Homo sapiens: one gene and its partner. The protein of the gene in region 1 interacts with the protein of each later gene in a pairwise test. Each region holds a gene or a part of one and is shown on either strand. Other genes may lie near its edges.

Evidence for each region.
Region 2: the proteins of PAX6 (region 1) and CIB3 interact in binary tests that used the Homo sapiens proteins (3 or more experiments, as listed by UniProt).

What each region holds. Positions count from the first base shown.
Region 1 is NC_000011.10:31,797,823-31,801,322, reverse strand, and holds part of PAX6 (paired box protein Pax-6), read left to right. Parts: exon of another isoform or gene 1-93; intron 94-466; coding exon 467-632; intron 633-661; exon of another isoform or gene 662-784; intron 785-3,500. UniProt on the Homo sapiens protein: Transcription factor with important functions in the development of the eye, nose, central nervous system and pancreas. Required for the differentiation of pancreatic islet alpha cells.
Region 2 is NC_000019.10:16,163,526-16,167,025, reverse strand, and holds part of CIB3 (calcium and integrin-binding family member 3), read left to right. Parts: intron 1-2,112; coding exon 2,113-2,308; intron 2,309-3,500. UniProt on the Homo sapiens protein: Acts a an auxiliary subunit of the sensory mechanoelectrical transduction (MET) channel in hair cells. Plays a role in regulating hair cell MET channel localization and function.

The sequences.
Region 1 (3,500 bases):
CGGAGGCACCAGGGAAAGGCACTTGAATGAAGAAGGAAAATGAGAACCAGATTGTAACTTCGTCCTAATCCACCTGCCAGAACTTTCCTTCAGGTGTCACACATCCATTTCCATCCTAATATTAAACAATATAATGAAAGAAAGCTTTACAACAAGTCTAAATAGTTTTTATTTTCGGGCAGTCTTTTAACAAAGCAAAGCAACCGTGTGAGTTAGGTCACCAGAGACACCAAGCAATGGTGAAGGACCCCCTCCGCCCAATTCTCTATCCAACTAAATTTCCATGCCCAAAGTGATAGCTATCATTTTTTCCACGGTGTATCTGCAAATCCACCCACTGTCCCGGGGTGGCTGGGAGCTTTTTAACGGGTTGAGAGTTGCTTTTTAAGGTTGTGGGTGAGCTGAGATGGGTGACTGTGTCTTCAGGAGACACTACCATTTGGTTTGATTTTGGTTTGATTTGCAGGTGTCATCAATAAACAGAGTTCTTCGCAACCTGGCTAGCGAAAAGCAACAGATGGGCGCAGACGGCATGTATGATAAACTAAGGATGTTGAACGGGCAGACCGGAAGCTGGGGCACCCGCCCTGGTTGGTATCCGGGGACTTCGGTGCCAGGGCAACCTACGCAAGGTAAAACCCAAGCAGCCATCCACGCAGCTCTCCATATGTGCATCCCTTTGCCTGTCCCCTACTCTCCCAACCATTTCCTCTCAGGGCTTCCATGCTTGGGGAATGTCATGGGTGAGACTGCATTTGAAGGCCTGGGACACATCGACCACATTGTATGTAGGTGGTGTTTGTTGAACCATTTTGTTGGCCTGGGAATGTGAGGGTTGTGTATGTCAGGAGCGGTATGAAGGTGGCTGGTGGGTGCGTGTGTGTGTTTGTGGGCAGCACTGTGTGCATAAGAACGAGCTGCGTGGTGCACTATTCAAATTTGACATTAGAATGCAGGGAGAGCCCCCTTGTAGAAGTGTGACAAGATAACGCACTGACAGACTGCGAGGTTAACATAATTGTATCCTGTTGCTTTTTGCTGTAATTGACAAATTATGTGACTATGAGTAGGGTGCACATGAAAAGGTGAGCAGGGAGATGCAGGGCGAGTCGGGGATGGGGCATTGGAAGTGGTGGTCTCCCAACTAAAACCACCCCACTATCCTTGCCCCTCCCCCGTTCGCCCCTCTGGGTCCCACTTTCTCACTCTCTGTGGGTGGCGACTATGTGGAAGTGGTGAGGTGAAGATACTGTGAGCAGGACGGCGGGATGCCGGGAGCCGCTCTGGTCTGGGAGGAGAGATGGGACCTGAAACACCCCAGGTTCTGTGAGAAGGGCTGGAGGAAGAAGAGCGGGGGATGGGGGGGGTGGGGCGGAGGGGAGGGTCAGTTGGCTCCCCTCCGCTCCCCTCCACACCCCGAGGTAGCTTGGTCAAGAATAGGAAACAGTTTACTCCGAAGATTAATCGGTATTTGTTGTCCTCGTGACAAGGAGATAATATGCGGGATAATGGGACGTGGCGTCTCACTCCCAGGAGCACAACGGAGCCGAGGGGCTCGGGGCCAGGGGCGGCGCGCGGGACTGCGAGGAGGCTGCCGGCGCATCCGTGAGCTCTCGGACCGGCTCCGGATGCCCGGCGCCTCCATGGAGTCGGGCGAGGGAAGGGAAAATCGGTAACAGTATGCGAAATATCTGGTACAAAGGATGCTTCTGTCACTCGCAAGAATTTGTTATGGGAACAATCCTGTCGCTCTGTAATTGCTCATTAGAGAACGTTTTGTTTCTCATTAAGGCGACATGAATAAGCGTCTAGTTGAAGGAGACAGCTGTAGAAATGTTCCACAAGAGACCTCTGGACACGATTCGGCACCAATTGCCAATTAGACATGTCAGTTTTAAGAGCAGAAAACAATATAGGACGGACACTGGGAAGATAGGGAGCAAAGCGCTCGCTTCTTGTTTCCCAGCGCGGCCGCTCGGCCGGCGGAGGCCTCCTGACGCGCGGGGCCCGGGCTCCCCTGGGCGACCCCGCCCGCACGGGCCCCGAACCCGCCGCCTCCGCGAGCTCAGAGGGCCCCCAGGCCCGCTCCCGCCTCTGGTGAGACTAGCGATTGACCCCACCGAGTGTAGGCAACCCCATCCCTGCCTGACTTTTGAAACCGTAGGATTCCCACTTGTAGACACTGGACACACCCAAGTGACACCCGAACTTCGCACTCACGAGCGTCCACCCCTCCGCCCCCAGCAATCTGAGGTCCTGGTGATCCCTCCCCTGACAAGAGTCTGGCCCACTTAGTCCGAGAAGTCTTGGGGAGGGACTCAGGGCACGGTGGCCTAGGCCTGGGAGGGCTGAGCCCAGAGCCTCCACTCCGGGCTCTCCCCGGTGCGTGGGCTCCCATGAGCTTGGGGCGCAGGATACACCCCCCTTCCGCTTCTTGGAGTTGGGCAGAAGCCGAGGACAGCAGCTTCCACCAGAGGTGGCGCCCGATTCGGGCGGATTTTCGTCGCCGGCAGTCTGAGGGCGGGAAGTGAGAGTCAAATCAGCTAGGGTCCGCCTGTGATGGTTGGGGCCGGAGGTGGAGCTAGTCCAGGGGCTTTTCACTTTAACGCGCCTAGTTGCTAGAAAATTCTGGGTCAACTGGCAATCACCACCCCCCCACCCGCAAGTGAGGTTTTTGGGGGGTGATTGTCACCTCAGGCACAGGACCGTCGCCCCTAGTTGCGTGGGGAGGACACGTGGGCCAAACGAAGCACAGAGTTGCCGGCGTGGGGGTAGCGGGCACCGGTGGTGAGCTTCGCTTCACGTTCCCGGGGAATCCTCAGACTTTTTGGTGCTAAGAGGGTCCCCCTCCCTCCCTAGCCCCCTTTCCCAGCCCAGGAAGCCTTTCTTGGGTTTTAAAGAGTCCATACTCCAAAAGCATAAGGCGGGGGTTAGGTCTCAGAGGGAGACAAATATGGTTTCCATCTGATCAACGCCATGCGGCGGTGAATAAAATCGCGACGACGTGGGCTGACAACAACAAGAGACAACTCTATCCAGCCCCAATTCTCCGGCGATTTGGTGGTTTTAGGGATCACGGAGACACTTTTTCTTATCTCCTCCCCTCACCCCACCCCCACCCCCCATAATACCCAAGCCCTCTATAGGATTTAGTCAGCCTCTCTTTCAACAGATGCTACAATGTTTTGATCCGCGCTCCAGAGCTGAAAAGGTGCCGCAACCGGGTTGCTATCTTTTCTTGCTTGTTTTCCGCCTCACTGATTAAGACACTAAGAAACTAAGGAATGATTTTATTTCCCAGCAACTCTCTCTCTGTCTCTCTCTCTCTCTCTCTCTCTCACCTCCTTCCAGGAAACAAATCCTATTCCCATCGTCAGATGGTCCTGGGGCTGGGATAATGGGAGGCGCTTTCACTCGCTTTCTCACGGATTAGGCTGGAAGGTGAACGGCACCCACTGAAGGCCCCTGCTTTGCGCGGCTCCGAGGGGGCGCCTTTTGAA
Region 2 (3,500 bases), on another chromosome or scaffold:
CAGACTGGTCTCGAACTCCTGACCTCAGGTGATCCACCCGCCTCAGCCTCCCAAAGTGCTGGGATTACAGGCATGAACCACCACGCCCAGCCAAATTTTTGTATTTTTAGTAAAGATGGGGTTTCACCATGTTGGCCAGGCTGGTCTTGAACTCCTAACCTCAAGTGATCCACCCACCTCGGCTTCCCAAAGTGGCAGGATTACAGGCATGAGCCACCGTGCCCTGCCACCATAATACTTTTTGAGTGAGTACATGAAAAATAGTTATCATGGTGCCCAACACATAGTAGGTGCTCAATAAATACTTGTTGCATGAATGAATGAATGAAAAAGTTATCAGAGTACCTGGCACACAGTAGACACTAATACTTGTTGAGTGAGTGAATAAAAGAGTTATGGTGCCCAACATGTAGTAGGTGCTCAATAAATACTTCCTGAATGGATGAATGAATGAATGAATAAATGAAAAAGTTATTACAGTGCCTGGTGCACAGTAAGCAGTTAAAAAGTACTTTTTGAGTGAATAGATGAAAAAAGTTATCACAGTGCCCACTACACAGTAGGCACTCAATAAATACTTGTTGAGTGAGTGAATAAATGAAAAACAGATATCATGGTGCTTGATACGTAGTACGTGTTCAAGAAATACTTGAATAAATGAATGAAAGAGCTGTCACAGTGTTTGGCACATAGTAGGCACTCAATAACTATTTTTATTTATTTATTTTTTTACTGAGACAGCGTCTCACTCTTGTCGCCCAGGCTGGAGTGCAATGGCGCGATCTCAGATCACTGCAACTTCCACTCCCTGGGTTCAAGCGATTCTCCTGCCTCAGCCTACCTAGTAGCTGGGATTACAGGCACCCGCACCACGCCCCGCTAATTTTTGTAATTTTAGTAGAGATGGGGTTTCACCATGTTGGCCAGGCTGGCCTGGAACTCCTGACCTTAGGTGATCTACCCATCTCCACCTCCCAAAGTGCTGGGATTACAGGCATGAGCCACTGCGCCGGGCCCATAACTGTTTTTTGAATGAGTAAATGAAAAATTATTATCACAGTGCCAGGACACAGTAGGCACTCAATAAATACTTGTTAAGTGAGTGAATGAATGAAAATTGCACTCAATAAATACTTGTTGAGTGAGTGAGTGAATGAAAATCAGTTACTGTGATGCCTGACACATAGTAGATGCTCAATAAATACTTGTATGAGTGAATAAAAAAGTTATTACAGTGCCTAGCACACAGCAGGCACTCAATGCTTGTAAAAATGAATGAATGAGGTTGGGTGTGGTGGCTTCCACCTGTAATCCTAGCACTTTGGGAGACCGAGGTGGGTGGATCACCTGAGGTCAGGAATTTGAGACCAGCCTGGCCAACATGGGGAATCCCATCTCTACTAAAAACACAAAAATTAGCCGGGCATGGTGGCAGGCACCTGTAATCCCAGCTACTTGGGAGGCTGAGGCAGGAGAATCACTTGAACCCAGGAGGTGGAGGTTGCAGTGAGCCGAGATCGTGCCACTGCACTCCAGCCTGGGCGACAGAGCGAGACTCCGTCTCAAAGAAAAAAAAAAAGAACGAATGAAAAATTCATTGCATAAATACTTGTTGAATGAATGAATGAACTCCCAGCAGGTCCCTGCCCAATTTTAAGGCAAGTTCCAGATTTTACACCAGGGTCTCGGGTGCCCTCCCAGGGCCTCAGTTCCTTTTTTTTTTTTTTTTTTTTGGACGGAGTTTCTGTCTTGCTGCCCAGGCTGGAGTGCAGTGGTGAGATCTTGGCTCACTGCAACCTCCACCTCCCGGGCTCAAGTGATTCTCCTGCCTCAGCCTCCTGAATAGCTGGGATTACAGGTGCATGCCACCACACCTGGGTATTTTTGTATTTTTAGTAGAGATGGGATTTCACCATGTTGGCCAGGCTGGTCTCGAACTCCTGACCTCAGGTGTTCCACCCTCCTCAGCCTCCCAAAGTGTTGGGATTACAGGCGTGAGCCACCGTGCCCGACCTTAGTTTCCCCTTCTTGTAACATGGGCACAGTATGTGCCCACAGCCGGCCTAGCCCTCCTGCCACCTGCTGTCACTCCCCATCCATCCTGCTCTGCAGATTTTAACAACGACGACTACATTTGTGCGTGGGACCTGGAGCAGACGGTGACCAAACTGACGCGGGGGGGGCTGAGTGCCGAGGAGGTGAGCCTGGTATGTGAGAAGGTGCTGGATGAGGCTGATGGAGACCATGATGGGCGGCTGTCCCTGGAAGATTTCCAGAACATGATCCTCCGGGCACCAGACTTCCTCAGGTGATGCTCTCCGTCACCGCCCACAGTCCATTTGCACATCTGAAGGGGCTCTTACGCAGACAGTTCACAGACTCTGTTTCTGAAAATTCCTCTATTCATTCTTTCATGACCTTGGGAAACTTTCTCAATTTCCCTAGTCTCAGTCCCTGCATCTGTAAAATGGGGATAATTAGGGACCCCCTGGGCACCTCTTGCGAGTGGATACACCTCTTTCAGCAAGCAGAATGTGGCTGGACTTCAGCCCTTGTTGCCTGAACAGTTTGCAGTGAACAGACTGTGTAACTGTACTTGGCAGCCTTTGGGGAAAATCAGCCGCCACTGCAGGGCAAAGTACGGCCAATAGGCCAGTCTGACCCAAAGCCTGGTTTTGTACCTCCTGTGAGCTAAGAATGGCTTTTATATTTTCAAAAGATCAAAAAACAATCAAAGAATAATAATATTCCAACCAGGTGGGGTGGTTCATGCCTTTAATCCCAGCACTTTGGGAGGCTAAGTGGGGAGGATCTCTTGACCCCAGGAGCTTGAGACCAAACTGGGGAACATAAGGAGAGTCCATATCTACAAATAAATAAATAAATAAATAGCCAGGTATGGTGGTGCATGCCTGTAGTCCCAGCTACTTGGGAGGCTGAGGCGGGAGGATTGCTTGAGCCCAGGAGGTCAAGGCCGCAGTGAGCTCAGATTGTGCCATGCACTCCAGCCTGGGTCACAGAGTGAGATTCTGTCTCAAAAATAAATAAACACATTAAAAATTTTTTTTTAATTTAAAAAAAGATTATTCCATGACACGTGACAGTGATACGAAATTCACTTTTCTGTGTCCATCAGTAAAGTTGTATTGGCTCACAGCCACACCCATTTGTGTACATTTTGTCTATGGCTGCTTGTGTGCTTCAACAACAGAGTTGCGTCATGGTATAAAGTTGAAAACATCAACTATTTGGCCATTTACAGAAAAAGGTTTGCTGAACCCCAAATTAATATATGGAGAAAATTCAGCACAGCTCCTGGCACACAATAGGTGTTTAATAAATTGCTGTTGCTATTATTATCTTATAATTTTTAAATTTCACTTTATTTTTTATTTTTTGAATTGACAAATAATGATTGTACATATTCATGGGGTACACAGTGATGTTTCTTTTTGTTTGTTTGTTTGTTTTGAGACGGAGTCTTGCTCTGTTGCCCAGGC